4 separate regions of the Homo sapiens genome follow, and all the other regions are linked to region 2. Evidence: fine-mapped expression QTL. A gene starts in region 2. Each other region holds a variant in brackets. All regions are shown on one strand. Distances are between the middles of the regions. Region 1 holds the start of TAF11L13 (TATA-box binding protein associated factor 11 like 13). Region 2 holds the start of LINC02218 (long intergenic non-protein coding RNA 2218). Region 3 overlaps LINC02218 (long intergenic non-protein coding RNA 2218). Region 4 overlaps LINC02218 (long intergenic non-protein coding RNA 2218).

Region 1 (8,110 bases), 190 kb after region 2:
TAAAACATTTTTGAATAGCCCACATATATATCTGGTTATTTATAAGCTTAATTTATGGGCTATAGTCATTTTGTATATAAACATTAGTTAATTTAATTCTTTTCCTTAGATAAAAATAAACATAAATCAACATTAAATTTTGTTCTTTGTGCCTCAATTATCTTGCATATTTTGGGGGCATGTGGCCTTCTAATCTTTTCATTTAAGAAGTCATTAATTTAGATCTCTCTCTAGGGTGTTTATCTCTCTAGATAGAGACCTACTAGAGTTTAAGAGAAAAATGAGGAGTATATAAAGCTTAGATAAATTCAGTGTCTTTTTAGAGTATAGTGAGAGATAACTGTATATGGTAATTAATTTTTATGAGAAGTTTATGTATCTGTGTTTGTTTTATTTCAGGGGTTAATTTTCAAGTTTTGGATGGTTCTCCCTCTTTGAGTTGCCATTTGTTTCTGCTTATAACCTACCGATCATGACTTCAGTACCAGTAAATATTGGAAATGAAAGGCCCTATGTGACTTACAAAGATTCCGATGTAAATATGTTTTCCTGGTAAAGACGGGTTTCACCATGTTGTCCAGGCTGGTCATGAACTCCTGACCTCAGGAGATCCACACAACTCCGCCTCCCAAAATGCTGAGATTACAGGCATGAGCCACCGTGCCTGGCCAGTAATTTCATATCTTCTACCAACTATTTTTGAATAAACAAAAGCTCTTTAAAAGTCAGATATTTGAGTGTCTGCTTTATCTTCTGAAGTAGTTTTTATGCCATTTATCAACATAATTTTCCCTAAATGTGATGTAAATCTTTGTGCATGACGTAATTTTATGTCTCTTTGGTGCTTCTCTGTGACCTATGTATACATACACATGTAATATATAAAATTGAAATCTGGGCGCAGTGGCTCATGCCTGTAATCCCTTCACTTTGAGAAATCAAAGTGGGGCAGATCACTTGAAGTCAGCAATTCAAGATCAGCCTGGCCGGAATGGTGAATCCTCGTCTCTCCTTGAAAAAATACAAAAATTTGCCTGGCGTGGTAGTGCGCACATTTAGTCCCAGCTACTCTGGAGGCTGAGGCAGGAGAATCCGTTGAGCCTAGGATGCAGAGGCTGCAGTGGGCTGAGATCAGGCCACTGTAATCCAGCCTGGGGGACAGAGCGAGACTCTGTCTCAAAAATAAATAAATAAATAAATATATTAAAAAAAATAACATTGAAATCATATTTTCTTATTCCCATCACCCAGCCCAGTTTATTTTCAGAGTGCCTGATAAATCACTTGTTTCCCTATGAGTTAGGGATTTTTTTCTCAGACATTTAAATTTTCTAATGCGCAATTTCGTAAAATGTCTCATTTTTACTGTAAATAGTTTCTTTATTGTTTCTTTATTGTTGTGAGGAATCATTCGATTCTGTGAAGAAGACTGAATTCTGAAATGTCCCTTGCATTTCCCTCCCCTCAGAGACTCGCCCTGTGTCTGCCCCTCCCTTGGGTGTGGGCGGAAGCATGAATTGATGTGCCCGCCCAACTTCCTGATTAGATTAGGGATATCCTGAACCAATGGCTGCTAAGGGCTGGGTCTAATTCAATCATCTGAGCCCTTTATAAGGGAGGACTGAACCCCCCTGTGATTACGCTCCCCTGTGGGAGATTCCCCAGCACTGGCTGTGCACACCCAGGGAGCCTCACGGCCCAGACCTGGGCAGCACGGGTAGGAGCTGAGAGCATCCTCACGGCAGCAGGCAGAACAAACAAGTGGGCCTGGGGCTCACAACCCTAAGGCATTGTTGAATTCTGCCACCAACTCGAATCATATCGAAGCCAGACCCTTCTCAGGTGGAGGCAACGACCACACAGCCAGACCCATCCTGGAGGTCCCTCCTGGGACTCTGAGCAGGAGGCAGTCACTTGGCCTAGCAGAACTTCTGACCTGTGAGCTGGTGTTTGTTTTAAATACCCAAAATTGGTGAGAATTCGTTCTGCATTGATCTAAAACTAATATACTCTCCTTCCACAAGTTTCTTCACACTGTGGAAGTGAGAAAATTCAGTGTGTGTGTTTGTGTGTGGGAAGGGGAGGCCGGGAACTGTGTCCGGTTACGGCGAAACTGGCTCAGCAGAAACACAGCAGCTAAAATCTTTGAAAGGTTCTCATCGCAGATCCATAATCAAACCACCCCAGCCGGAACTTCTGCCTGTACAGCTGCTGTCACGGAGCAGACTTGAATCTCACCCATGGAGACCGGCAGGCAAACAGGCGTGTCTGCTGAGATGCTCGCCATGCCCCGAGGTCTGAAGGGCAGCAAGAAGGATGGAATCCCTGAGGACCTAGATGGGAACTTGGAAGAACCCAGGGATCAGGAAGGTGAGCTCAGGAGTGAGGATGTCATGGACCTCACAGAAGGTGACAGTGAGGCCTCAGCCTCAGCTCCTCCTGCAGCCAAAAGACGGAAAACACATACGAAACGCAAGAAGGAGAGGAAGCCCACCGTGGATGCAGAGGAGGCTCAGAGGATGACAACCCTGCTGTCTGCCATGTCTGAGGAGCAGCTGTCCCGCTACGAAGTGTGTCGCCGGTCAGCTTTCCCAAGAGCACGCATTGCGGGTCTGATGCGGTCTATCACTGGCAGTTCGGTGTCTGAGAACGCGGCCATTGCCATGGCTGGAATAGCCAAGGTCTTTGTTGGAGAGGTGGTGGAAGAGGCCCTGGACATGTGTGAGATGTGGGGAGAGACGCCCCCGCTGCAGCCCAAGCATTTAAGGGAGGCTGTTCACAGGTTAAAGCCCAAGGGCCTCTTCCCCAACAGCAACTACAAAAGAGTCATGTTCTAGGCCCAAGGCCAGAGGGCAGGGTCTGTTTGTGCAGGAATAAGTACCGCGTTCATCTTCCAATGACAGGAGTGTGTTTGCTGGAGCTTCTGCATCTCAGTCCCACCTGGATTTACCCACGATCTTAGTGTCTTAAAATGTGAAGTTGCCCTTACCTGGATGAAGACAGCAGATTGTTTCATAGGAGCCTTGGCTAAATCTTTGGGCATTTTAATGGGATGTGGAGGCGTTTTTCTATGTCTTTCCAGTTGGAGGAATCAAGGTGCCTGGGCCAAGAGCATCCTGTGGACAGGCAGCTGCATTCAGAGAGGGAAGCCCTTCCCAGGAGATCTGCATGGTTTCCTGCTGAAGCCTGGTGTAGCTGTGTCTTAGCTTGTATGCTTATGTCTGGGTTCCAGTAATTGGAGCTTGCAGAAATGTTTCCCCGATTGTTCTTCTGTACATTTTCAATGCTCATATGTATTTTTGTGAGTCATCTTGAAAACAGTTAAACTGTTCAACTGGTTTCCAAACTGCAGAAATCAAAATGAAATCACAAAACACTTTTTTTTCCCCAAGTTGACTCTTCTATTCCTGCCTGCTGTGCTTTATGCCAGCAAGTGACCCTTTCCTGTATTATAATGCAATATAGTATAGATGCATCATGTAAGACTAGAGAGAAACCAATTCCAAAACCACCTTTCCTCAAGCCGCCATTTGTAACGATCATATGGGCGGTTTAAAGGACACAGAGAGGGCCTATTGATACTTCACTTTGGCTATACGTGGTGATTTTTGCAGTGCTTCCGGAGACACTGAAATTTAGTTCCAAACATTGCCTTAGAGGATTCTTGATATTATTCATTCTGCCGATGATCCACTCAGAAAATGAAACCTGAGTACGGCGACATTGGAGAAGTCGTTAAAGCATTGGACCAAGTCGGTTCATCACGAGTGACAAAGATATTCCACACTCTAGTTGTACATACTCTGCTTTACCTTCATGATGGAAAAGAGTAATTTTTCGCTATAGAGTAAAAACCCGAGATTTATTATGGAATCACCGTGAACCTTCCCAGCACAGCTCACAGATCATATGCCAAAAATTACAGTGTGATTCAGTTTCAAAAATTGTCTGTAGTGACCTGTGAATTCACAGCTCGTGAGGACATTCTTTAGTTTGGCGGAAACCAAAAAACCTGAAACCATTGAAATTGAAAAAAATGGAGTCTGCCAAATTCTGCCTCTTACACTTTCAGCTACCATGCCATGTTCAACTATTGTACTTGATAAGTATTGGAAACTTAAAGTACTGATAATTTCAATAGAGTTTCACCAAAGTAGTATTTCTTGTGAGAAAGCCATAATCTCGAATCAGGTCAAAGCCAGACCCTTCTCAGGTGAAGGCAACGACCACACAGCCAGAGCTATCCTGGAGGTCCCTTGTGTGACTCTGAGCAGGAGGCAGTCACTTGGTCTAGTAGAACTTCTGACCTGTGAGCTGGTGTTTGTTTTAAATATCCAAAATTGGTGAGAATTGATTCTGCATTGATCTAAAACTAATATACTGTCCATCCACAAGTTTCTTCACATTGTGGAAGTGAGAAAACCAGTGTATGTGTTTGTGTGTGGAAAGGGGAGGCAGGGAGCTGTGTCCAGTTGTGGCTAACCTATGGCTCAGCAGAAACATAGCGGCTAAAATCTGTGAAAGGTTCTGATTTCAGATGCATAATCAAACCACCCCAGGTGGAACTTCTGCTTCTACAGCTGCTGTCATGGAGCCAACCTGAATCTCACCCATGGAGACCGGCAGGCAAACAGGTGTGTCTGCTGAGATGTTCGCCATACCCCGAGGTCTGAAGGGCTGCAACGAGGATGGAATCCCTGAGGCCCTAGATGGGAACTTGGAAGAACCCAGGGCTCAGGAATGTGAGCTCAGGAGTGAGGATGTCATGGACCTCACAGTAGTTGACAATGAGGCCTCAGCCTCAGCTCCTCCTGCAGCCAAAAGACAGAAAACAGATACCAAAGGCCAGAAGGAGAGGAAGCCCAGTGTGGATGCAGAGGAGGCTCAGAGGATGACAACCCTGCTGTCTGCCA[T/C]GTCTGAGGAGCAGCTGTCCCGCTATGAAGTGTGTCGCCAGTTAGCTTTCCCAAAAGCACTTGTTGCACGTCTGATGTGGTCTATCACTGGGAGATCGGTGCCTGAGAACATGGCCATTGCCATGGCTGGAATAGCCAAGGTCTTTGTTGGAGAGGTGGTGGAAGAGGCCCTGGACATGTGTGAGATGTGGGGAGAAATGCCCCCATTGCAGCCCATGGATTTAAGGGAGGCTGTTTGCAGGTTAAAGCCCAAGGGCCTCTTCCCCAACAACTATAAAAAAGTCATGTTCTAGGCCCAAGGCCAGAGGGAAGGGTCTGTTTTTGCAGGAGTAAGTACTGCATTCATCTTCCAATGACAGGACTGTGTTTGCTGGAGCTTCTGCCTCTCAGTCTACCCTGTATTTACCCATGATCATAGTGTCTTAAAATGTGAAGTTGGCCTTACCTGGATGAAGACAGCAGATTGCTTCATAGGAGCCTTGGCTAAATGTTTGGGCCTCTGAGGTCATATTGTGGCATTTTTGTATGTCTTTCCAGTTGGAAGAATAAAGGTGCCTGGGCCTAGAGCATCCTGTGGACAGGTAGCTGCATTCAGAGAGGGAAGTCCTTTCCAGGAGATTTGTATGGTTTCATGCTGAAGCCTGGTGTTGCTGTGTCTTAGCTTGTATGCTTATGTCTGGGTTTCAGTAAGTGAAGCCTCCAGAAATGTTCCCCAATTGTTGTCCTTCTCTGTATTTTCAATGCTCTTTTGTATTTTTGTGAGTCATCACAAAAACAGTTAAACTGTTTTCCAAACTGCAGAAATAAAAATAAAATCACAAAGCATTTTTTTCTCTAAGTTGACTCTTCTCCTATTCCTGCCTACTGTGCTTTATGTCAGCAAGTGACCCTTTACTTTATTAAATGTGATACAGTATAGATGCATCACGTAAGACTAGAGAGAAACCAATTCCAAAGCCACCTTTCCTCAAGCCGCCATTTGTAATGAACATATATGTAGTTTAAAAGGCACAGAGAGAGCCTACTGATACTTCATGTTTGCTACACATGGTGATATTACCAGGGCTTCCAGAGACACTAAAATTTAGTTCCAAACATTGCTTTAGAGGAGTCTTGATTTTATTCATTCTACTAATGAGCCACTCAGGAAATCAAACCTGAATACAGAGACATTGGAGAAGTCGTTAAAGTATTGGACCAAGTAGGTTCATCACGAGTGACAAAGTTATTCCACACTCTACTTGTACATACTCTGCTTTACCTTTATGATGGAAAAGAGTAATTTTTCATTACAGAATAAAGACCTGGGATTTATTATGGAATCACCGTGAACCTTCCCAGCACAGCTCACAGATATCCATGGTGCTATTTCAGTCTGTTTTCCTTTGCCATGTGCCCCCTGAATCACAGAGTATAAGCAAAAAGGATCGAAAAGACCCCATAGTTCAGCTCTAATATTGAATGGAGAATAACATGTTCTCTTTCTTCCTGAAGCCAAAGATACCCCCATGAAATATATTTTTATTTCCTCATACACTCAGCTTTTGCTCTTAATATAGGACTTATTGTACATAGAATCTGCCTTTGGGTAGCACACAAATTTCTAAACTTTACCAAGTATGGGGAAATTATGTTTCATACCTCCATATTCTGACATCGTTTAGCTTTCCTTTTATTTTACCAAGTTTCTTGTAAAGGCATTTAACAAGTTAGACCAGTGTGTCTTAGAGACACAAGGAGGGTACAGGTTCTTGGAAGAAATGATGGAGATGTGAGGGCTCTGTCAGGAATTGAAGTGCTTGAGCAACCAAAAGAAGTGAGATCCAAGAGACTTAATATCTCCTAGTCTTTATATTGCTCTCAGCTCATTCCTTTTTCATGGCATTGAGCAGTCTTGGAAGTTGTATTCTGGCAGATGTGGCAGGTCGAGCCCTTTCAGAACACTAGAGGAAAAGAGAACCTGGCCCAAGCAACCTGAGGTTGAGACAAACATCTGCAGAGAGCAGTGCTGATGGTGATTCCACACTCAAGCTTAGAACATTTTTCTGGCCCCTGATAGAACTCAATACTTTGAGTGGGGTCTGAGTAAAGCTGAACTGCTGAAGACAGAAACAAGTTCCCATCAAGGTCTCAGAGGTCAGTTCAGGAGCTGGAACACAGCGTTGTTTTCTCAGAGAGGAAAATTGGATTAGCTGAGAAGGTTCAGTGTCCTTACACATTCTTTTTTTTTTTTTCCTTTAAATTTTGGGATACATGTGCAGAACGTGCAGGTTTGTTACAAAAGTATACATATGCCCTAGTGGTTTGCTGCACCTATCAACCCATCATCGAGGCTTTAGGCCCAGCATGCATTGGGTATTTGTCCTAATGCTCTCCTTTCTCTTGCCTCCCACCCCCTGACAGGCCACGCTGTGTGATGTTCCCCTCTCTGTGTCCATATATTCTCATTGATCAACTCCCATTTATGAGTGAGAACATGTGGTGTTTGGTTTTCTGTTCCTGTGTTAGTTTGCTGAGAATGATGGTTTGCAGTGTCATCCATGTCACGGCAAAGAACACGAGCTCATTCTTTTTTTATGGCTGCCATGTATTCTATGGTGTATATATACCACAGGTTCTTTATCCAGTCTATCATTGATGGGCATTTGGGTTGGTTCCAACTCTTTGCTATTGTAAACTGTGCTGCAATAAACATATATGTGTATGTGTTTTTATAGTAGAATGATTTACAATCCTTTGGGTATATAGCCAGTAATGAGATTGCTGGGTCCAGCGGTATTTCTGATACTAGAGGAATCACCACACTGTCTTCCACAATGGATGAACTAATTTACAGTCTCATAAACATTGTAAAAGTGTTTCTATATCTCCACAGCCTTGCCAGCATCTGTTGCTTCCTGACTTTTTAATAATCACATACTAAATCTTCTCAATATATAATATCATACAGCCACAGCTCTCAAGAAAGAAATCTGTAGAAAGTGGTATCTTTCCAGGAGAAATCTTTGACAGCTTTCATGACTGATTGTATTACATGTTAATGAAGTTTTTCCTGGAGCTTCATTACTGTTCTTAAAGTCTATCTCATAATGTACATTTGGAGACTGCCTAGAAAAATGTGGTCTCTGTTTGGTGCTGGTAAAGTGGTGACAAGATACCTAATAAAGTGACTGTACTTGACTATTTTCCATAATTTA
Region 2 (8,110 bases):
GTGCTTTCTCTGTGGGGCAGATAAGGTGAGGAGGTGATCACCCCAATCCAAGAGGCTGAACTAGGTCAAGACTGGGTTGACATTTTAGTAAAATCCTCTCCACTTCTAGCTATGTTTTTATTCCTCAGGCCTGTCTCTTCCACACTGTTGATTGACAGCTCTGAAAGAAAGTGGAAGTTTCGGGCTGTGTAGTATCCTGCCGTATGCTCCATCCAAATTTGATGAGAATCTTGGGGAGACCAGCCACCTTCTGAGCAGACTCCTTTCCTCCAGTGGAACTTTTCCTCCCAATTATTATGGGACTTCTGAAGATTTTAACTTACTTTGCAGAAACTCCTAACCTTTTACTCAGCCTCAATTTAGCAAGGGTACTATGAGGAAAATTGGCAAGGCATTTGGGGATACTTTTGTTTCCAAATTGTTGTGGTTGCTTCTATGAATGCCACAAGCTTTGCTGGCTTCTCTTTCCTTCCTACAGTGCTTCTGCATGAACCAGATCTGATCTGTGTTTCAAATCAGCAAACATCCCAAGAAAGAAAATAGCCTGTGAAAGGTAGCTAATCTTGGCAAAACACTCTGCTCTCTGGAATTTTTGTTCTTTTAATTCTTTTTGTTTCCATAATTCACTGATCTCTTTATATGGATTTTTTTTGCAATTAATTTGTCGTTTTTAGTTAGTCTAACAGGATTGTATTCTCCTGCAACTAACGGCATTCTATTTATAACCACAAGTCCCCTTAGGGTCAACTTTTAAGAAGCCTTGGGCAGCTATGTTCTTCCAACCTAACAGTCCATAAGATCTTCCCCTATTTTTCCAGAAGCTTCAGATGAGACTATCACAAAGAAAAGTATGGACATATGTGACAAATAGAGATTACAAATTAAATTCTTACTGTCCAACATGAAAAACTTGACTGTCCTTTTTTTCTGTGTGTCCAGATATACAGGGAGTCCACGGAGCCTCCCCTGCAAGCATCAGTACAGAAGTCGATGATAATCTGGATGCAAGCCCAGGAGTGTGGAGTCCACTGACTCAGAAGACCTGCATCTAAGGAATTGGCTGTTCTTATCCTTAAGAATGATGACTGTGTTTCCAATTCCAGTAGACCCTTTGATGCGTTCTGAATAAATATTCCTTTTGGAATTGAACTTCTAGAGCCCTTAACTTTGGCCCACTCTAGTTTTCTGTCTGTTTTTTTTTTTTTTAATATTTTTTTTTTGTAAAGATAAGGTCTTGCTTTGTTGCCCAGGCTGGTCTTGAATTCCTGGACTCAAGCAATCCACCTGCCTTGGCCTCCCAAAGTGCTGGGATTATAGGTGTGAACCATTGTGTCCGATCGCTCTCTGGTTTTTCTAATATCATGATCCCAACTCTGTTCTTTATGTAAATTTCCCTGATCACATGGTTGTATCTTGGCATTTCAAAATCCTTGACAGACTTTGTTTTGTTTGAATTTTACAATGAACTTACATGACTAGGCACGGTCCCCAGTTCAGTTTTATAGACAAGGATTCTGTAGGTCAAGAAGTGAAACACAACCAATAACAGCAGGTGACAGGATTTAAACCTGGGTCACTTTACTTATTTTTTTCTACTCTATCATTATGTGAATCTATCCTACCTCTGCAATGACAGATGGCCCTAGAGCAAGAACACTTCCTTACATCTGGTATACAGTCAAAAAGTAAAAATTCCACACAAATAAATATGGAAAGAATTTTTACCTGCTCCTATAGCTTCCTTTCAGGGACCTGGCACCCACAAATGTTGGGTAACAGAAAGAGGACTTATGTAACTTAACTCAAAGCAGAAAAGTTACAGAGACTGTCTTAGCATAATAGAGCATGGAGTGGTCATGCTTGGATGTGCAAACTGTCTGATAGTCTTGCACATGGCTTGACCCCGAATTACACTAGTGGGGCAAGTTGCCTGGGGCAAAGCAAACTTATTGGACCCAAAGCTCTCATTTGAGAATTTTGTTGACTAAAAGTTATAAAATATCAGCAATTTCATATGGTTCAGCCTAATATTTTATCACTCTTCCTTTTTCTATTCTAAAACAATAATTTTTAATAACGTAAGCTATACACATACATGCTTTAAACATACAACACCCTGACTATCATATAGTGGATATTTCAAGAAGTAAATGTTCAGCATGTCTTCACCCCCACTTGAAGACATAATGTATGTATTAGGCTGTTCTGGCATTGCTATAAAGAAATACCTGAGACTGTGTAATTTATAAGAAAGGAGCTTTAATTGGCTCACGGTTCTGCAGGCTGTACAGGAAACATATTGGGTCTACTTCTGTGGAGGCTTCAGGGAACTTTGACTCATGGTGGAAGGTGAAATGAGAGCAGGCACCTCATGTGACTGAAGCAGGAGCAAGAAAGAGAGAGCGAGCAAGGTGCCACACACTCTTAAACAACCAGAACTCTCTCTTGAGAATTCACTCACTGTCTTGCCGTCAGCACCAAAGGGATGGTCCTAAACCATTCATGAGAAATCCTCCTCCATGATCCAATCACCTCTCACCAGGCCCTACCCCCAACACTGGGATTACAATTCAACGTGAGATTTGGGCCTGGACACAGATCCAAACCCTATCAATATATTAGCCAGATACTTGCAGCTGTATGAAGAATACCCTGGTTACCCAGCTACAAATGCAGATGTTATTGATAAGGGAGGGGGGCAGGGAAGTGCTGGGAGGAGAAAGCAGGTCTCTGGCGAGGGCTTCACCCCGGTGCCTGTGCCCACAGACCTAGGTAAGGGCAGGCACTCCTGCCTTTGCGCCCAAATGTTGCATTTCCCAAGACCACCCTGGCCCACCACGCCCCCATCCTGTGCCTATAAAAACCCCGAAACACTAGTGGGCACTCACACAAGCGGCTGGACGTCCAGAGGACGTCAACAAGAGCACGCCGACAGGCAGACCCTGGCAGGCCATCGACTGGCGGAAGGACATGGAGTTTGGCTGCGTGGTTGGAGGAGAGCCAGGCCGCTAGGTGGCCTGACTCCAGGAAACTACACCTTCCCACTCCATCTCCCTTCTGTCTCCCCTGTCTGCTCACAGCTACTTCCTCTCAATAAAACCTTGAACTCATTCTCCAAGCCCACGTGTGATCTGATTCTTCCGGTACACCAAGGCAAGGACCCTGGGATACAGAAAGTCCTCTGTCCTTGAGATAAGCCAGGGGGTCTAATTGAGCTGACTAACACAAGTCGCCTACAGATGGCAAAACTAAAAGAGCACCCTGTAACACACGTGTGCCCACTGGGGCTTCAGCTGTAAACATTCACCCCTAGACACTGCTCTTGGGTTGGAGCCCCACAACCCAGCCGTCCGCATGCTCCCCTAGAGGTTTGAGCAGTGGGGCACGGAAGAAGCGAGCCACTCCTCCTGTTGCACACCCTGCGGGTGGCGCAAGGGAACGTTTCCTGTTTCATCATCAGGGATATTGTATCGGTGTCTTAAATAACACTAGCATTTTGACATATTTGGAGCTGCTACTGGGCCAGCTCTGTTTCCAGGCCTGCCTTTCAATCTTTTCCTTGCTTCTGGCATGAGTTACCATCTCTTTTAAGAAATTGGTTATGCATTTGAAAATACACGTAGCTATACATACTTTAAACATATCATTTAGCAAGGATGCTCCTTATCGGACCGTTGCTGGGAACAGAGAACACGACAGTTCCAGGTGAGCGAAATAGTGTGATCTCATACATGATGAAAGCTAAGCAGGCAACAGCTTTTCCGTAAGCAAGCATTTCAAAATGTATTTGTAGAAAGGCAGTAAAAGAATAAGATGCAAATCAAGCTATTTTTAAACCATCGTTTTCAGGGCCAAGGAAGAAATTATGAGAATGAATTTTTTAAAAAAAGATTATAAGGTCTTTAGTGGTGTTTTTAGTTGAAGTAATTTAGAGATGATTAGGTATTGCTATTTTTTATTCAATTCTTTACAACAAAAGCTTACAGAAATAGAAAGCTTTGCCATTTCTTTTCCCCACAACTTTAAAAAGTAAAGAGTGAGTGTTGGGTCACAATAATCTTTCTTTTTTAGTCTCCTTTTTGTGCAAATTCATCCACCATCAAATTACATTGTACTCCTTCCTCCTCTGTGACTACCTGTGGAAGAATGTTTATATAAATAAACCCAAAGGCCTGTCTTTTTGTCTGTTGCTCTGAGTAAGTGGTGCAAAATAGATGCCTTAGTCTGGTGATTTGATTTAATACAAATGGACCTTGTTAGAACACTTCTTTACACCTGAGATATTGGGAGATTTACTTGTAACCTTCCTTGCTACGTGAACAGCAGTAGTATTTGCTGTTTCTAAGATGTGTTGTAGTTTGAAAGATTTTGTTTGTATCATGCCAAAGTGACTGCATTAAGAAGTTCCTAGTTGACTGATTAAAACAAAACAAAACAAAACTCCTTTAATCATTCAGCTGTTTGACCTATGCTAGTGTATAGGTGCTATACACAATTATATATTTTGATGCTTTCTGTTTTATTATGTGGCAGTGTGTAGTCCCAGTATTTATGCTAATTATATCGTTCTTTGGAATCCAGTTTTTCTTTTTGTAAATTTGGATTAAAGTCTATCATGGCTCCTTTCAAAGAGAGCACTAAATGTAAATGGAGGGTTCTTTGATACCATTAGAGAGATGGGACTGAGATCTCAAAGAAATAGGCTGCACTGGCTCTGGGGTGAATGGGTCCTATGACTTGTAGGGCTTCAGAGTAGGACACACAACTCTGGGGCTAAAGCTCAGGACATTGGCCATGCAGTTGAACATTTCTGCCCGTTCTTTCCTGGTCCTGCCCTGTGCAATTTCCAGCTTCTGTAAATACATATTGAAGGTATGTATACATAGCAAAGGTGTGCCAAAGTGTACAGTTGCTCAGATTATTTGCACACCTTGGTTTGGCCCTGGCCAGTTGAAGGAGTCATGAGGAAATACCTTGCTGCGATGACTTCTGTCATTCATTTCTCTGTGTATATTGGTACTAATTGATTTTTTTTGGCAGAGTTTAAAGTACTTTTGAACTTTTCCCCTTTCTTCTCTCCTCTGCTTCTTTTTCCAGACTGTTTCCAAGATTGGATGAAGAGATTCAATTGACAATGCTGTGAAGAGAGGGATTTGGAGCTTGTTGGGGGAGGTAGTGTTGACTTCCTTGTGCAATCTAGGATTGAGTGGGGGATGCAGTTGGAAGGCAAGAGAAGTAAGACTCCTCCATCTTCCTGGTCCAGAGAAATTATGCTGGATCCCCCTACCCTTAATGAGAAAGGAGGTGTTTGTGTTTCCAGCATCTATGAGATCTGATTGCTAATGTAGCTACCTTTAAAGAATTCTGCTATTTACAATAAAAGTGAGATCTCCCTCCTCCATCCTGTGTTACACAGCCTGGGATTGCACCGTTGTTCCTGGCACCTTTGCATTGCAGGAGCCTGCCTTTGACTTTCTTTCCTCTCCACACATCTTCTATTCCTGCTGCTTCTCTTTTCAGAAAGTGCTGAGCTTCTAGGCTAGTGTCCCTCTCAACGGATGAATATTCAGCAGAGAATGGAGAGCTTTCAACCGTAAGAATCAGGATGTGGCTGTTTATAAAGTTATTGCATTTTTTTGAAGAGTGGCTGCAATTAGTTTTGGTGTTAGGCAGCAAAAACCCCAAAATGTTCTTTCTGATTTCATGTTGCTTGCATAATACAGATACCCATTTACTGGAAGAAATCTTCATGGGTAAGTGTATGAGTGTGTATGCATAAGTATGTGTATGTGTGTGTGTGACTCCACATATATTCCTAGAGTGCCTTCTATGTGCCAGGCATGGTGTTAGTTGACATATGTAATTGAGAGTAAAACAGTCATGATCTCTGCTCTTAACCAATTTACAATCTAGGATAAAATAGACCTTCCATGTTCAAATCCACAATGACATTAATTGCAATATGATCATTGTTGTGCTTGAATAATAGCTAAGAAAAGCACAAAGAACTTACAAGGTGGCTTAACAGAAGAACATCATCTAGCTTAGAAGTCTGGATAGCCCCTTTCTAAGAAAGCGGTACGAGTAAGGATGAATAGGAATAGGCCAGATAAAATACGAAGCCAGGAGTTGGAGGTGGACACGGGGGAGGGAGGTGACATTGTACTGATGGAGAGATGTGGAGAGCTGAGGAGGCTGATGAATGTAGAGAAAGTTGAAGTGTCACTGGATTGCAGTTCTTGATAGGTAGAAGTGTTGTATGAGGGGACGAAAACAAGGCCATTGGAAAGGGAAGTTGAAGATGGTGGTGGTGGTGTTTGTGAAGGTATTTATATTATTGCAGAATTATCTGAAGTGCAGTTTCCAATGTTAACCAAATTCATGGTGTGACTGTGGAAGTTGGTGCTTGAGGTGAATGATGACAACTATCAGTGGGTATCAGGGTAAGGAACTGCTGGGCAAGGTGTTGATGGTGCATCCAAGTGATGTTAAATCTGCTTAGCATGATGGTAGGGTTGGGTGAAAAGGAGACTATGAGTTGAGTGCTAAATTCTTTAAGGAGTGACCAAATGATTAAGTGAGGACTAGAGGGAGAAGAAGCTCTTATTGTCAACTACTCAAAGGAGCAACTTACAAAAGAGAGTGCAGTCATTCGTCTGCAAGTGGCATTGGGTAGTCAGGAGGACGTTGCCTTGGTTCTGATACTGAGATATTTGGAGTTTGATGGAAAATATCTCCCAGCCCCTGCTTGAGAGGAGAAGCAGTATCCTTAGGGGACAGTGGGTTTCAGTGAAGTCGAGAAACTGTGGTGTGTGTGTGTGTGTGTGTGTGTGTGTGTGTGATAACTTTGAGATAATGATGGGTTAGAAACATGTAGATTAAGGTAAGAAGAGACTACCCTCAGGCATTCATCTAAACTTTGAATTTCTTCTAGAAACCTCCTCTCAAGTCACAGTCAAGTGATCCAGCAATTGCAAAATCACTCTCTTCTAATGTGTACCATTTCACTTGGTAGCTCTTTCTGTTGAATAAATGATACTCTATATAATAGACACTCAAACATTCTAGTATTTTCTATGCAAATGTGTAGAAAAAAGTGTTTGGGGGTATGAAGTCAGGGTAGGTAGGCTGAAAGATGATTTTATTTATTTATATTTGTTTCTGTAGTGCTCATGTGATTTAAAATACAAAAATTAGACATATATGTTGGAAAAGTGCATCAAAACCTGAAAAATTAATTTACAAACATTTTATGCTATGGTTGGAGTTATGAATGTAACTTGTCTGAAGATGCTTCCTGATCATTGTGCTTCATTTTCTTCTTATTTGTACTGTAAACATTGTACAGTTTTTATTTGACAGATGAACATTAGCACTGAAGAAGCAAATTGAATAAAATATAGGCATTTAAGTTAATTTAAAATGTAAGTTTTATTTTATTTTTGGATGGGGTCTTGACTGCATCCTGAAAACATAGCTGGTCTTTTTATTACCTTAGTGTAAGCTGTGTAGTCAAAAGAATAGTGGGAATGGTCACTGTGTGTGAGTATTGTTCCCGAGGTAAATTCTGTCCTAGGCAACTACTAGCCAAAGGATCTTTCAGAAATACTCTCCCAAACCACTGCCCACTGGATAGCAAACACAGTATCTATTTTAGAGGAAATTATTGCATTAGATTAAAATGGTTAAATTGTCTTAACATGCCACGATCTTATCTTTTAATGAAAACATTTTTTATTAACTTTTTTTAAAGGAGGACAACTGCTCTTCAGATTTCTCCCATGAGAACTGGAGATTAAACTTTGATTTTCCTCCTTTTATCCTCCCCGACAGAAGCTGTATATTTTGAGGATAACCACTTGGTTAAAAGCAAAATAGCCCTAAATAAACACACATACCTCAAAATGAATGAGCATTTCGGGTATAGTCTTAGATTTCACAGTGTCAAACTGACTGGGTTGAGAAAGCCACCAGAATTTCATAGCTCAAAGTTCAGGTTTTATACAGGATTTATATGTCCTGTAGAATATTTTGTTTGCTGCAGTTTGAAATGATAGTATCTTCTTCTCTAGGAAACTAATGTTTAACAGATAAGTGCAACCAGATTGCT
Region 3 (8,110 bases), 21 kb after region 2:
ATCCAATTTGTTAGTCTGTGTCTTTTAATTGGAGCATTTAGCTCATTTACATTTAAGGTTAGCATTGTTATGTGCGAATTTAATCCTGTCTTCGTGATGCTATTTGGTTATTTTGCACACTAGTTGATGCAGTTTCCTCATAGTGTCATTGGTGTTTATATTTTGTTGTGTTTGTGCAGTGGCTGGTACCAGTTTTTTCCTTTCCATATTTAGTGCATCTTTCAGGAGCTCTTGTAGGGCAGGCCTGGTGGCAATGAAGTCCCTCAACGTTTGCTTCTCTGGAAAGGATTTTATTTCTCCCTCACTTATGAAGCTTAGTTTGGCTGGATATGAAATTCTGGGCTGAAATTTCTTTTCTTTAAGAATGTCAAATATTGGCCCCCAATCTCCTCTGGTTTATAGGGTTTCTGCTGAGAGATCCACTGTTAGTCTGATGGGCCTCCCTTTGTAGGTGACCTGGCCTTTCTCTCTGGCTGCCCTTAACAGTTTTTCCTTCATTTTGACCTTGGTGAATCTGATGATTATGTATCTTGTGGTTGATCTTCTCATGGAGTATCTTAATGGTGTTCTCTGTATTTCCTGAATTTGCATGTTGGCCTGTCTTGCTAGGGTGGGGATGTTCTCCTGGATAATATGCTGAAGTGTGTTTTCCAGTTTATTTCCTTTCTCCCTGTCTCCTTCCGGTACTCCAATCAATTGCAGGTTTGCTCTTTTTATGAAGTCCCGTATTTCTTGAGGCTTCGTTCATTCCTTTCCATTCTTTTTTCTCTAATCTTGTCTGCATGTCTTATTTCAGCAAGGTGGTCTTCCAACTCTGATATCCTTTATTTTCTTTAGTTGATTTGGCTATTGATACTTGTGTATGTTTTACGAAGTTCTCATGCTGTGTTTTTCAGCTCCATTAGTTTGTTTACGTTCCTCTGTAGACTGGTTATTCTAGTTAGCAATTCCTCTAACCTTTTATCAAGGTTCTTAGGTTCTTTGCATTGGGTTAGAACATGCTCCTTTAACTCAGCGTAGTTTTTTATTACCCATCTTCTGAAGCCTACTTCTGTCAATTTGTTTATCTGATCCCCTATCTAGTTCTGTGCCCCTGATGGAGAGACTTTGTAATCATTTGGAGAAGAGGCACTCTGGCCTTTTGGGTTTTCAGCATTTCTTCACTGATTCTTTCTCATCTTCGTGAGTTTGTCTAGTTTCAGTCTTTAAAAACCCCACCTGACCCTCAGGTGGGGTTTTTGTGGGGGCTTTTTGTTGTTGTTGTTGATGCTGTTGTTGTTGTTTTTTGCTTGTTTGTTTTTCTTTCAATGGTCAGGTCCTTCCGTAGGGCTGCTGCAGTTTGCTGGGAGTTCACTTCAGGCTCTATTCATCTGATTCGCTCCGGTGCCTGGAGATGTCACTCAAGGAGGCTGGAGAACAGCAAAGTTGGGTGCCTGCTCCTTTTTCTGGGACCTCTGACCTCGAGGGGCACTAACTTAATGCCAGTAGGACTGCTTCTATATAAGGCATCTGACAACCCCTGTTGGAGGGTCTCATCCAGTTTGGTGGCACGGAGAGCAGGACCCATTAATAAAGCACTTTGTGTCTTGGTGAAGGGGTTGTGCTTCTCTGGGGGGGAACCCACTTGTCTAGGCTGCCCGGATTCCTCAGAACTACTGGGAGGAAAGGTTTGCAGAGACTGTGGCCACCCCCTTTCTGAGGGGCTAGGCCCAGGGAGATTCAGCTTATTCCCCTGAGCCTCTGGCTGGAGTTATTGGAGTTCTGCAGGGAAGCCCCGCCCAGTGAGGAAGGATGGGTCAGGGTCAGGGTCAGGCCTGAAGAGGCACTCTGGCTGCTGACTGCCACAACTGGTGTGTTAGGCTGTGGGTACAAGCCTTGGGAGCAAGCCGTCCAGTCTCCTTGGCTCCAGCAGGGGAAAAGAGCAGCCTGGAGCTTTAGAGATGGATGCCACCCTTCCCCCACCCAGGGAGCTTCCGTGTTAGGCAGTTGCAAGTCCTAGTGCTGGCTGCTGCCCCTTCTCCAAGGAGCTCAAATGGCTTAGACAGCAGGCAGCCTCAGCTGTGTTGCTGGTTGACCCTCCTCCCGGAGGTTCGGTGGGTTTAAGCAGATTCCAACTGTTGAGAATCTGTGTGTTCTGGGGTTGGGACACTAGGCCCTGGCGGCATGGGTTCACAAATGGGATCTTCCGATCCATGGGTTGCACAGTTCTGTGGAAAAAGCACGGTTTCCCGGGCTAGGTAGCACACTCACTCACCGCCTCCTTTGGCTGAGGGGAGGGTGCTCCCCTGCCCCACGTGGCTGCAGCACCACACTGTTCTTCCTCCTCTCTGTGGGCCACACCAGCCTTCTAGTCAGTTCTGATGAGAGAACCTGGACACCTTGGTTGCCGGTGAAGGAGTCACATGCTTATTATGTTTTTTTTGTTTTGTTTTTTTTTTTTTTTTTTTTTTTTTTAATAGGAGCCACCCAAGGCCGCTGTTTCTAGTCGGCCATCCTGGCCCCTCCTATTTCTGTATTTTTAGTAGAGACGGGTTTTGCCGTGTTGGCTAGGCAGGTCTGGAACTCCTGGCCTCAAATGATCTGCCCACCTCGGCCTCCCATACGGGTGTGAGGCACTGCACCCAACCACTCTTTTATTCTTTTCTGCAGATTAGGCTTTTCATCTGTTGTCATTTCCTTCAGCCTGAGGAACTTGCTTTAACATTTCTGGTAGTGAGGTTTTGCTTACAATATATTCTCTAAGCCATTGTCTGAAAATGGCTTTAATTCACCTTCGTTTTTGAAAAATGAACAGTTAACATTTTTCATTTAGCATTTTAAAGATATCATTTCATTATCTTCTTTCTTTTTTTCATGAGAAGTCAGCCATCATATTTATTGCTGTCACCCTGAATATAATGCATAATTTTTTTCTTTAATTGTTTTTAATATATTTTATTTTAATCATTAGTTTTCACCAGTTTGGCCAAAAAATTCCTGGATGGGTTTATCTTTGTGTTTGCCCTGCTTGCAGTTTGCAAATTTTTTGGATCTGTTGATGTATTTTTATCAGTTTTAGAATAGGTTTTAGCTATTATCTCTTCAAGTATTTCCTCTGTTTCATTCTAATCTCTTTCTGGGACCTGAATTACACATATGTTAGATGATAAAATATTGCCCCAGAGGTCTTGTATGCTCTGTTCGTGTGTGTGAATTTATTCTTTTTTTTCTATATTTCTGTTTTTAAGTTAATTTGCTTATTCTTTCTTCTGTAGGTCTGGCCTGCAATTAAACTGATTTAACAAACTTTTTATGTATGGTGATGTATTTTCAGTTTCGTAATGTTTATGATTTGGTTGGTTTTTTTCTTTTAGGTTTCTACATCTGCGCTGAGATTCCACATCTGTTCATCTATTTTGTCCACCTTTTCCCCCAAATTTTTAATCAGAATTCTATTAACTGTTTTAAAGCCTTTGCTAATTTCAACATCAAAGTCAACATGTCAATATCACCAGTCTGAGGATCTGCTCCTATTTACTATTTTTTTTTTCTGTTAGTTGTGGGTCATATTTCCATGTGTTTTTGTATGCCTAGTAATTTTTGATTGGATGATAAACATTTAAGACAATAAACCTTTTGTTATCTTTTTATAGAGTGTTAAATTTTGCTTTGGAAGGTGACTAAGTTACTAGCATATTCCCTTGATCTTTTGGAGGCTTGGTTTTAGAGTTTTTGAATGGGCATCTGTTATAGTTTTTCCCTTAGTTCTGTGCCATAGACTTTAGTCATGATATGTGTTTCTTATTCCTAATGTGTGGTCCTTGTAGAGTCTTAATGAGCAGCAACGGTATTTATCAAGCTCCTCTAACCTCGCCAGATTTGAGCTGTAGGCTGGAGAGTCACTAGGTAGCTGCTGAGGTAGTTTCTCAGTTCTTTATCCTTTCAGGTGCTGCTTTCTTCTGGATTGCTTAGATTCTCACCACGAAAATAGACAGTTTAGGTAAAAGCCAAGGATTCGAGGAGAGTTTGTTTGCAGATTTGGCAGTCTCCCTTTTTTCTGAATATTTTTCTTCCAATTTCATGTTCTGCTAGAATCTCTGAACTTCAGTCTTCCTGTCCTTTTCCCAATAGGATTACATTTCTTGGTTGATTTTCATTTTCTCTTTGTACTGCAGGGAGCCTGAACGTGTTATCAGGGGAAAAGCCAACTAATTACGGAGCTCACCTACTGTGCTCCTTCAGTTTCTGCCTGCTTTGGATTGTATACCAGTGCCTTCAAACAGTTTAAAAAAAATTTGTCTGCAGTTTATATTCTTATTATAGGAGATTTAGTCTGATATGAGCTATTCTACCACAAATGGAAACAGAATTTTTGCATAAACTGATATCTAACATTAGTTGCCTGCCAGTCCTTTGTCATGTGCTGTGGGAGAGATTTATGTACCTTAACAATGATCCACATAACAACACTACAAGATAAGTATCATCATTGTCATCATCATCATCAATCATCACCATCGTATTACTGAAAAGAAACTGAGGCAGAGAGTGATAACAAACTTTCCCAAGTTTATAAAGTAAGGGACAGATGCAGGATTCAATTTTGTGTATATATATATACTTTTTTTTTTTTTTTTAAATTGTCTTTTTTTTTTTTTTTTTTGAGACGGAGTCTCACTCTGTCACCCAGGCTGGAGTGCAATGGCATGGTCTCAGCTCACTGCAACCTCTGCCTCCTGGGTTCAAGCAGTTCTCCCACCTCAGCCTCCAGAGTAGCTGCGACTGTGTGCCACCACACCCGACTAATTTTTGTACTTTTAGTAGAGACGGGGTTTCAC[T/C]ATGTTGGCCGCACTGGTCTCGAACTCCTGACCTCGTGATACACCCGCCTCGGCCTCCCAAAGTGCTGGGATTACAAGCGTGAGCCACCGCGCCCGGCCTTGAGACGTAGTCTTGCTCTGTTGCCCAGCTGGAGTGCAGTGGCACGATCTCCGCTCACTGCAAGCTCCGCCTCCTGGGTTCACGCCATTCTCTTGCCTCAGCTTCCGGAGTAGCTGGCATTACAGGTGCCCGCCACCACGCCTGGCTAATTTTTTGTATTTTTAGTAGAGACGGGGTTTCACCGTGTTAGCCAGGATTGTCTTGATCTCCTGACCTCGCGATCTGCCCGCCTCAGCCTCCCAAAGTGCTGGAATTACAGGCTTGAGCCACCGCCACCGCCCCCAATGTTGTATATATTTTATATAAAGCTTGTAATTATGCCAGTGATTATCAGACTTGGCTGCAGATTGAAATTTCTTGGGGAGTTTTAAAACTACTGATGGTTTGATACCAACTCTACAGACTTTTAAAAAAAAATAACCAGTTGTAACTATGATTTGGCTATTGAGATTTTAAAAGTTCCTCAGATGTTTCAAATGTGCAGCTGAGACTGAGAACCATGGTGCTATGCCGTGGTTCCCATGATACCAACTAAATCCTGTAACCAGGTCTGTTGATGCTAATTTAATTTTTTTCTTTCTAAATAATTACAGAATAAAAAGATGTTTTATATAGTTACTATTCTGATATCATGATTAACAATGAAAGTAAGACTTTTTGAATATCTCAAATTAGTTTTTTTAAAAAGCCAATCCATTGGTAAGGATTCTGGTTGCCGTTATCTATATATGAGTGATAATGCTTATGAATGTAATGAGTGTTTCTATTTATCGTGTAATAAGAGCTTTATACTTGTTCACTTGTTTTGTGAATAAGAATAGGAAATAAAATTTACAAGAGCTATTGTATTACTTTTTTATCTTTTTTACTTAATATGAAGAAAATAAATAGCTAATAATGAGAATAAAAGCCAGCCTAGCATGCGAGTCACTTGCCGATGCCTAATGACCGGTTGCTGATAGCGGCTGCTTCACGTTGATAGTGCAGTAAGGTGATGTGGGTGATTGTGGGTGATGAAAAGTTTCTACAGAGAGTCTGGGGGCCTCAGTTTCGGTTTGAGATATTAGCCTGGTTTTCTAGTGTGACCTGAAACTGCCTCAACTTCTCTATACCTTCTCTATACCGAGGTATAGAGACAGTTCCAAGACAGCAGTTGGAATTGAGGCCCTTCTGGCTCCAACGTTTTGTAATTATCAAATTATTTCCTCCTTGAAATACTCTTTCTCTGAAGACAGTAGAACAGTCAAAAGTAAAAGTATACTATTTGAATATGTTTTTAACTGCACCTATTTCGGTGAATAAATCCTGTAATAAACTGATGATTTGGAAGTAGAGTGGATGCTGCTAAAAGCTCAGTTCATCTGAGAAAATTCCAGATAGGGGAAGCTTGATGTAGGCAGAGAAAATGAAGAACTGTGGTAAAATTTAATGAATAGCTGATGAAGCCCATCTGACCCTCTGTGTCAGGAGGTAACCAAATGTGTCTTTGTTGAGAAGTCCTGTGACACAGAGCTGTGCTTCCACCTGGCAGGAGATGCTGGTATTGGTGGCTGCCTGCATTCAAGCCCCTCTTTCCAGAATGGTAACATTGTGATTTGCTTTAGTCAGGGTTCCTATTCTTGCTGGGGGAGGTATGGCTCTGATAGAAAGGTAATAAACCCACCAGGAAGGGCTGATTTGCGTTGGCTGGCTGCAGCATTGAATTGGGAACAATAGATGGGATAATAATGCAGTGGTTGGAGGCGGTTTGGCTTTGACCTGGGTATCATTCATAGGTTGAACACAAAGCTGTTTTTACTCGTAGTTAAACATTTGGCAATTGCTGATCAGTAACAATGTACTAGATGTCCTACTGCAGTAGCATGGTTCAGTGGGCATAACATTGACTGAACTAGAATGTAAAAATATTTGTACTTAAATGTGTCTGTTTTGCTATTGATTGCTCTTGTGAATTTGGAACCATCCTTTGCCGTCTTGGCGTGTGTGTGTGTGTGTGTGTGTGTGTGTGTCTGTATTCATTTGCTTTGAGATGTGAAATCAGGGGAGAGGGTATCTTCAGTAAGATGAGTTTGAAATACTTAAAGGAATGAACCAAAATGAAGGTCAAAATAAAAAAATTAAGAAAAAAATATCAAAGATGTGAAAAAGCTGAATGACAGTATATTTTTATGTAAAAGATTTTCTAGACAGAATATTTGAAATATTGAGGCCCCAAAGCTCCAATGGTTAAGCCCCCAAACACCAATGGTTAAGAACATAAATGCAATGAAAAGACAAAGGATTGTTGACTCATAGATTTACTAGGTACTTTACATATTACTTTACTTTTTACAGTCTTTGGGTAGTGTTAATTATGTGAGTATATTACCCTGTTCTCTTGTTTGTAAATCAAGGTTGCCAGTTCACAGGTGGAATTTGAGGCCATATTCCATTCTTTGAAGAAGCTCTCCAACATATCAGAATTCTACACATTTTACTCTCTTTTTGTTACTCTTACTTGGCATAAATACATGCATTCTGGAAAGAATCTTTAGTGTGCGTGTGTGTTTGTGTGTGTGTGTTGATTATACTTAAGCAGCATTTTTATATACCTTCATTTTAACAAGAAGAACACATATATGTGATAAAGGTAGCATAGGTGATGTTGGGAGGAACATGAGTAGACAGTATGAATTCCAGGATTCTTCAGATCAGAAGTATTTAAGGGTGTGATATAGGTGTAACCCTGTTTATGTTCTACAGAATAGGGGAATTTGTTTTCAGCTTGGACTAAATGAGCAGTTCCTCGCTTGATTACCTGCCACAGGAGTTCAAGGGTTCAAACTTTTAGAATGGTGGTTTATAGCACCTGGAAGGGGGGAGGCATGGGGAATGGAGGGGATGCAGCCTCAAAGGCAGGTAGTCAGAACAAAGCACTCTACCAAGAATAAGGAAAGTGCAGGATTGTGTGAATAGAACTCTTTTCCCCAGTCCACTCCCGGGAAAATACAGCATATGAGCTGAAGCAATTCTTTCATTGGGAGACAGTCAATGCTTTGAATAAACCTTGGGAAAGTGCATAATCAGTAACAAATTTTCTATCAAAAAAACCCCTGCAACACAGTGAAGGGGCAATCTAAATATTGAGGCCAGGTTGTATGAGACAGGAATTACATAAGACACATAAAAGAGAGGATAAGAAAGCACTGAAAGA
Region 4 (8,110 bases), 34 kb after region 2:
GCCAAATCTCGAGCCAAATCAGAAAGACAATCCCATTCACAATTACCACAAAAAGAATAAAATACACAGGAGTATAGCTAACCAGGGAGGTGAAAGAATTGGCAAAATATTGTTCAATTACAAATTATAAAGAGAATTACAAAACACTGCTCAAAGAAATCAGAGAAGACACAAACAAATGGAAAAACATCCCATGCTCATGGATAAAAAGAATCAATATCATTAAAATGGCTATACTCTCCAAAGCAATTTACAGATTCAGTGCTATCTGTATCAAACTACCAAAGACATTCTTCACAGAACTAGAAAAAACTATTTTAAAATTTATATGGAACCAAAAAGGAGCCTGAATAGCCAAGGCAGTCATAAGAAAAAAGAACAAAGCTGGAAGCATCATGTTACCCAGCTTCAAACTATACTACAAAGGCTACAGTAAGCAAAACAGCACGGTACTGGTATAAAAACAGGCATATAGACAAGTGGAACAGAATAGAGAGCCCAGAAATAAGGCTGCACATCTATGACCATCTGATCTTTGACAAAGCTGACAAAAACAAGAAATGGGGAAAAGACTCACTGTTAAATAAAAGGTGCTGAGATAACTGGCTAGCCATATGCAGAAGATTGAAGCTAGACCTTTTCCTTAGACCATATGCAAAAATCAACTCAAGATGGATTAAAGACTTAAATGTAAAACTCAAAACTATCAAAACCCTAGAAGACAACCTAGGCAATACTATCCTGGGCATAAGAACAGGCAAAGATTTCATGACAAAGACACCAAAAGCCATTGCAACTAAAAGCAAAAATTGACAAGTGAGATCTAATTAAACTTAAGAACTTCTGCACAGAAAAGGAAGCTATAAACAGAGTAAATAGCCAACCTACAGAATGGGAGAAAATACTTGCAAACTATGCATCTGACAAAGGTCTAGTATCCAGCATCTATAAGGAACTTAAACAAATTTACAGGAGAAAAACTAACAACCACATGAAAAAGTGGGCAAAGGACATGAACATACACTTCTCAAAAGAAGACCTACATGCAGCCAACAAGAATATGAATAGAAGTTCAATATCACTGATCATCAAAGAAATGCAAATCAAAACCACAATGAGGTACTATCCCACACTAGTCAGAATGGCTATTATGAAAAAGTAAAAAAATAACAGATGCTGGCAAGGTTGTGGAGAAAAAGGAACATGTGTACACTGTTGGTGGGAGTGTAAATTAGTTTAACCATTGTGGAAAGCAGTATGGTGATTCCTCAAAGAGCTGAAAGCAGAACTACCATTTGACCCAGCAATCCTATTACTGCTTATATACCCAGAGAAATAAAAATAATTCTACCATAAAGATACATGCACACAAATGTTCATTGCAGCACTATTCACAATAGCAAAGACAGGAAATAACCTAAATGCCCATCAATGACAGATTAAATAAAGAAAATATGGTATATATACACCATGGAATTCTATGCAGCCATAAAAAATGAGATCATGTCTTTTGAGAGAACATGGGTGGAGCTGGAGTCCATTATCCTTAGCAAACTAAAATAAGAACAGGAAACCAACTACTGCATGTTGTCACTTATACGTGGGAGCTAAATGATGAGAACTTGTGAACACAAAGAAGGAAACAATGGCCTGGCATGGTGGTTCACACCTGTAATCCCAGCACTTTGGGAGGCCAAGACGGGTGAATCACTTGAGGTCAGGAGTTTGAGACCAGCTTGGCCGACATGGTGTGAAACCCCATCTCTACTAAAAATACAACAAGTAGCCAGGCTGGTGGTGCATGCCTGTAATCCCAGCTATTCAGGAGACTGAGGTGCAAGAATCACTTGAACCTGGGAGGTGGTTGCAGTGAGCCAAGATCGTGTCACTGCACTCTAGCCTGGGTGACAGAGTAAAACTGTGTCTTGTAAAAAAGAGAAACCAAGAAACAGAGAAGGAAACAACAGACACTGGGGCCTACCTGTGGGTGGAGGGTGGGAGGAGGAAGAGGAGCAGAAAAGATAACTATTGGGTACTGGGCTTAGTACCCAGGTAATGAAATACTATGTACCACAAACCCCCATGACACGTTTTTACCTGTTTAACAAACCTTCACTTGTACCCCAAACCTAAGATAAAGGTTAAAAAAAATTCACTGGTCTAAATGCTTCCTTCAGTGCACCCATGAGGTCCCTCCATAGTATAAAATACACACGTATTGGCCGGACGCAGTGGGTCACACCTGTAATCCCAGCACTTTGGGAGGCCAAGGCAGGCAGATTGCCTGAGCTCAGGAGTTCCCGACCAGCCTGGGCACACAAACTCTGTCTCTACTAAAATGCAAAAAATTAGCCAGGCATGGCAGCATGTGCCTGTAGTCCCAGCTACTCAGGAGGTTGAGGCAGGAGAATTGCTTGAACCTGGGAGGTGGAGGTTGCAGTGAGTTGAGATCGCGCCCTTGCACTCCAGACTGGGTGACAGAGCAAGACCCTGTCTCAAAAAAAAAAAAAAAAAAGCTACATGTATTACATACACAATCACATATTGTATGACAGAGTGAGACTCTGTCTCAAAAAAAAAAAAAGCCACATGTATTAACATACACAATCATATATTGTATGACAGAGCAAGACTCTGTCTCAAAAAAAAAGCCACATGTACTACATACACAATCATATATTGTATAAGATAATTTATATACAATTTTATAAAATATTAAATATATTACATAAAATAGTATTGTATACTAATATATATGAAATAGTAGTATATACATGTAATATATAATATTTGGCAGTATTTAAATGCTATGGGATAAAGACAATAAGGAGAAAATGGCTAAAAGATAGATATACATGTATATGTACATAAATTTCAATATGTTAGCATATACATATTAATATGTTTGATGTTATTACTGTGTACTAGTATCTATCTATATTTAGCTTGTTAATAAATATGCTTGCTCAAGACTAGATTAGAGCCTTTGTTAATTATGTTGCTAAGGCGCTCTTGCTTTCCTCTGATACCCATCACCAGGCCGAGCTTCAGTTTATTTCCAATCACTGTCTCTAATTATCTGGGAGATGTACTGTGGCTCGTTGCCTCTCATTCTGCTTTGAGAGGTTCTGTCTTCACCAGCTGCCAGGGTTTTCTGTCCCTGGGTCTCTGCCACACTGAGGTATAGGGGAAGCTTGTTCCACTCCCCACTTTTTTTTTTTTTCTTTGCTGGAAGAATCATCTCTGAAGGTTTTTCCCTGACAATACACTCTCCTTGAACTGAATATGTCTAAACACAGTTGGTTTCACGGACATTTGATCTGTGCAGTTGCACAGGGTCCATTCTCAGAAGAGCCTGGTACTTACTTGACTTAATTCTCTGCTGTTTTGATATTCTGGATAATTTTTGAACAAGAAGCCCTACATTTTTATTTTTCACAGGTTCCTGCCAATTATAGAGGCAGTCCTATTTCAAAATGCCATTAAGCATCCTTCTGAGCTGCGGAAAGTCATAGGACCAGTCTTCAGC[C/T]GTGCCCATTACAGTAGCAGTGACAGCACACCACTTTGCTCATGATACGGATCAGTAAGTGTTTAAGTGAACTCCGCTCTATCTGCAGATGTTAAGCACTCACTCCACACCCCCTCCCACACTGAGGCCCATGCAATGAAGAGTAAGGGACCTTCTCATAGCCTATGTGATGAATATTGAAAACTCTAAGACTGAATCTTTACTTCATGCAAATAAGTTCTTGAAGGAATCCTCTTAAAGTCTGTCATCATGTTATTAGAGACACAAATTCTCTTCAACTCTAAGGTAGCAGCCAGTAGCATGTTGCATAGCTGAGTAGCTTTAACAGAAGGAAGGAAACGTAGCACTGCATTAGTTTCCCAGGGCTGCCGTAACACATCAGCACACACGAGGTAGCTTAAAACAACAGAAATTACTTTCCTTACAATTCTGGAGACCAGAAGTCTGAAATTAAGGTATCAGCAGAGCTTTACTCCCCAGAGGCTCTGGGGATGAATGTGATCCTTTCCTTTTCCAGCTTCTGGTGGCTGCAGCTGTCCCTTGGCTTGTGGCTGTGTCTCTCCTTGATCCATCTTCATGTCACCTACTCCTCTTATGTGTATCTCTCCTCTGTGTGTCTGTCCCCAAACTCAGACCCTTTCCTAAAACGATACAGGTGGTTGCATTGAGAGCCCAGAACATGTGATTGCACTTAGAGCCCAGACAGATGATACTGGATGCGCATCTTTTTGGGTGCCACCATTCAGCCCACTACAAGCACCTATGTTGATAGGAGTGTTTAAGATATTCAAGCAGGAGGCCAGGTGCGGTGGCTCACACCTGCAATCCCAGCACTTTGGGAGGCCAAGGCAGGCAGATCACCTGAGTTCGGGAGTTTGAGACCAGCCTGACCAACATGGAGAAACCATGTTTCTCTAGTAAAAATACAAAAATTAGCTGGGTGTGGTGGTGCGCGCATGTAATCCCAGCTACTCAGGAGGCTGAGGCAGGAGAATTGCTTGAACTTGAGAGGCGGAGGTTGTGATGAGCTGAGATTGCACCATCACACTCCAGCCTGGGTGACAGAGTGAGACTCTGTCTCAAAAAAAAAAAAAAAAAAAAAAAAATTCCAGCAGGCAACATGACAACATTTGGGAAGGTGTTCAGTGCACATGCAAGGCACCTTCATTTTTAAACTAGGTGTTCCTTAAAGCACAAAACCCAAAGCTGTCACCTTCTCAAAGCTGATTCAGAGATCCATGTTTTCCATGTTGTCAGGAGTGGAAGGCTTTTGTGGTATATTCCTTTCTCTGTGATTTTTATAGTGAACCTTAAAGATGTCTGCCCTAAATGTTCTACATTATTCTAGCTTGTTCACTGGTTCAAAGGCTGTAGTATAAATTTTGCACAAATGATTCATCTCAATTCTCTTGACCCTTGGAAAGTGCTCAATACACAGTCAGCTCTGGTTAAATTTCATATTTAATAGATGAGTCTATATGCTGTCATTTTCATCAATACTTTTGTGTAAGAAACTAGGAAACATGAAAAAGTCACTTAGTTTCTCTAGTCCCATTGAAGGGTGATGGGATTAGGTTGATTTTTGGTTCAATTCCTTTGAATTGAGAATTCTGTATTTTGTAAAGTAGCACGTAAGCACTATGAGGGTAGAAATTAAAAAGAAACTTTTTATTATGGAAAATTTAAACATATGCTAGATAATGTGTTCCTATGCACTCATTACCCAGATTTAACATTTAATAATTCAATTCAAAGTTAACATCATCTAACCCCTCTTGTCATATTATTAAACATATAATAAGCAGTTTGTTGACAATTTAATCTCCAGTTTAAAAACATATACTGTGCAAAGAATTCTGCTTTTTTCAAGATCTTCACAACCAAAGCCTGTGATGCAACTTTTAGATGCATAAATGCTACAGAGTTTTGGGGAAATAAAACAACTTCAAAGTTGGTGCCAGACCTATGGTATGAGGAATACATTTTTTATTCCTCTTTCCATTGTGTTTCTTTAATTTTGGAAATTCTATGAGTTGAAAATGAAGGGAGAAAATGGGAGGTGTATTCATTAGCATAGAGATGGTTGTAAGAGGCAAGAATGGATGAGGTTGTCAGGAGAACCAGGAAAAGGGGAAAAGTAAGAGGCTGAGAGAGTGACCCTGATAATTGATGACCATTCAGCCAGCTAGAAAAAGATGAGTTCACTAGGAGACTTAGAAGTATGTTGGCCTAGCGTGGTGCTCACTCCTGTAATCCCAGCACTTTGGGAGGCCGAGGCGGGCGGATCACAAGTTCAGGAGTTCGAGACCACCATGATGAAACCTCGTCTCTACTAAAGATACACAAAATTAGCTGGGCATCGTGGTATGCGCCTGTAATCCCAGCTACTCGGGAGGCTGAGGCAGGAGAATCACTTGAACCCAGGAGGTGGAGGTTGCAGTGAGCCGAGATGGCGCCATTGCACTCCAGCCTGGGCGACAGGGTAAGACTCTGTCTCAAAAAAAAAAAAAAAAAGAAGTATGTCAACACAGGGAAATCAACCTAGAATAGCTTGGGAACCTGATCCAGAAGCCACAGGAAAAGGATTTTTTTTTTTTTTTAAAGGAAATGAGTGGTGAACATTGTCAAATCCTGCATTTGACATATGAGAGGAGTGTCAGTGGCGTGATGAAGGCAGAAGCCAGACTTGAGAAGTCAACAGAAGTTGACCAAGAGGAGACAGGCCGGACTGACAACTCTCAGAAGGAGCCCAGTTCTTAGGTGGGAGGAGAATAGCCAATAGCTAGTGGGTAGATGAGGAGAGTGAAGTTAATTATTTTCAAGGCAGGAGACATTGACAGTATTTATCTGCTTCTGGGGTAAAAGTAGTAGAGAGGAAAGACAGAAATAAATAAATAAGGGATATTTTCAGAGAGGCTACTGTGGGACTTAGACCACAGGTAGAGAATAATTTATAGGTGGGGGAGGAATCATCATTGTGATGAAAGAGAAGGGAGAAATCTGAAAAATCTGATCTGGATACAGATGTAGACACGTTTAAGGGTAGGAACCGATGTGTTTCCATCTGATATATATATGCTTTATATATATATATATATATATATATATATACACATACACACACACATATATAGGTGTGTATATATCTAATAGGCATATAGATATACATACCTATATATAAAAATTATATATAAGTATAATATATAATAGATACAAGTACTATATATTATACATATATATATAATTTTTTGAGGGAGGTGACAATGTGGTCTGCTGAGAAGCCAGAGACTATTGCTATAATCTCAGTGAACACTAAATACTTATGGAATAAATGCTAATAAGCAATGTTAAAAAAACAGATGTATTCTTAACAATTTGTTGGTAATTACCTTTTTCTCCCTTTTTTTTCTTTTTAGCTTGCATTTTTTTCCCTTTTTAATAACACTCAGTGATGGTACCTAAACAGAAATTATAAAATAAAATAATCATTTATTTTTATGGAGAAAAAATAAAATAATTATTTATTTTTATGGAGAAAAAATAAAATCAACCAACTAACTGAAGTGTTAAATCTAAATTGGTCTTACTATATTCCAGAGAGTTTTAGTGGTAATACAATCCTTACACAACACACACATGCTCACACGCACACACACACACTCCAGAAATCAAATCATCCAATGTAAATGCACCCTACAGTCAACCTGAAAGCCTTTAGGAATAAATACGTGTTTCTTACCATGCTCTGTGATTGCTACCCCCTTGGATCTTCACGCCCAATGCTAAACACAAGTGAAGCATATACATCTCTAAGACCCAGAGTTTGTCAGCTGATTCTTATTATTCAAGGATGGGAGGAGAGCTGTTAGAGGAACAAGGCAGGGGAAAGCTGGCACAGCATTGTTAGAAATCTCAGTACAGTGGTTCAGAGGAGGCAGCTTGCTTCGATAGGGAAAGGTTAGGGGATGGAGGGGCATAGTTGGGTTTGAATTTTCTTTTTCCACTCCTAAGGAAATGCCAGTTCCTATAGAGCACACCGCTCTTTCTTTTCTGCTCCCTTGCCCCTTATTTTCTTCTTCTTTTATTTTCTTCTGTCTTGATCTTTCCATACCCCGAAGTTAAAGGATGGGGGTGCCCACTAGAGAGCAGAGTCGATTCAGATCTGGTAGAATGAAGAATTGGAATGAATCTTCCCAGTCCATGTAGCTTCTATGTTCTACCATGAAGGGAACTCATCTTTCCCAGCTCCCTTTTATATTGTTCAGCTAAAAAAGGAAGCATCAAAATAATTTGTAAGCACTGTGTTGGTTTTTGTAAACTTCAGATTCATTTTAGAGTCATCAGAGAGCTAACTTCTGCTTATACCTATTTGATACCCAACAAGAAATTTTGCGACAATAAAATGAAACACTTATGGTCTCTGAATATCATAAACAGTTTCAGTTATGTGTTTAAATTCAGTATCTGTGTAATAATTAAAGAAATTACAACAGGATAAACCAAGTAGGAAATAAGTGCCTGGAACTATGCTTGGTAGATTTAGGGCATCTAAGGCATTGACCGGTTTTCTGAAAGACCATG

What was found. PIP is the estimated chance that this variant, and not a neighbour inherited with it, causes the effect.
Region 1: its variant is fine-mapped to the expression of LINC02218 in whole blood (TOPMed, PIP above 0.99).
Region 3: its variant is fine-mapped to the expression of LINC02218 in whole blood (TOPMed, PIP 0.91).
Region 4: its variant is fine-mapped to the expression of LINC02218 in whole blood (TOPMed, PIP above 0.99). The same link has a PIP of 0.9 or more in neutrophils.

What each region holds. Positions count from the first base shown.
Region 1 is chr5:17,629,848-17,637,957 of GRCh38, forward strand. TAF11L13 (TATA-box binding protein associated factor 11 like 13) reads left to right here and starts at 2,241. Exons shown (of 1, transcript NM_001401695.1): 1 at 2,241-2,837. The coding sequence starts at 2,241. The coding sequence ends at 2,837. It overlaps TAF11L14 (TATA-box binding protein associated factor 11 like 14), which reads left to right and starts at 4,613. Exons shown (of 1, transcript NM_001401687.1): 1 at 4,613-5,206. The coding sequence starts at 4,613. The coding sequence ends at 5,206. RefSeq lists an enhancer at 2,025-2,777. The variant T/C (reference allele first, on the strand shown) is at 4,914.
Region 2 is chr5:17,440,530-17,448,639 of GRCh38, forward strand. LINC02218 (long intergenic non-protein coding RNA 2218) reads left to right here and starts at 3,481. Exons shown (of 3, transcript NR_134270.1): 1 at 3,481-3,705. It overlaps LINC02217 (long intergenic non-protein coding RNA 2217), which reads left to right. Exons shown (of 2, transcript NR_134275.1): 2 at 940-1,165.
Region 3 is chr5:17,461,951-17,470,060 of GRCh38, forward strand. The region is part of intron 1 of LINC02218 (long intergenic non-protein coding RNA 2218); the gene reads left to right. Among named protein-coding and RNA genes, the nearest start is that of LINC02218, 22 kb to the left of the region's middle. The variant T/C (reference allele first, on the strand shown) is at 4,818.
Region 4 is chr5:17,474,174-17,482,283 of GRCh38, forward strand. LINC02218 (long intergenic non-protein coding RNA 2218) reads left to right here. Exons shown (of 3, transcript NR_134270.1): 2 at 3,442-3,583. Among named protein-coding and RNA genes, the nearest start is that of H3Y2, 14 kb to the right of the region's middle. The variant C/T (reference allele first, on the strand shown) is at 3,530.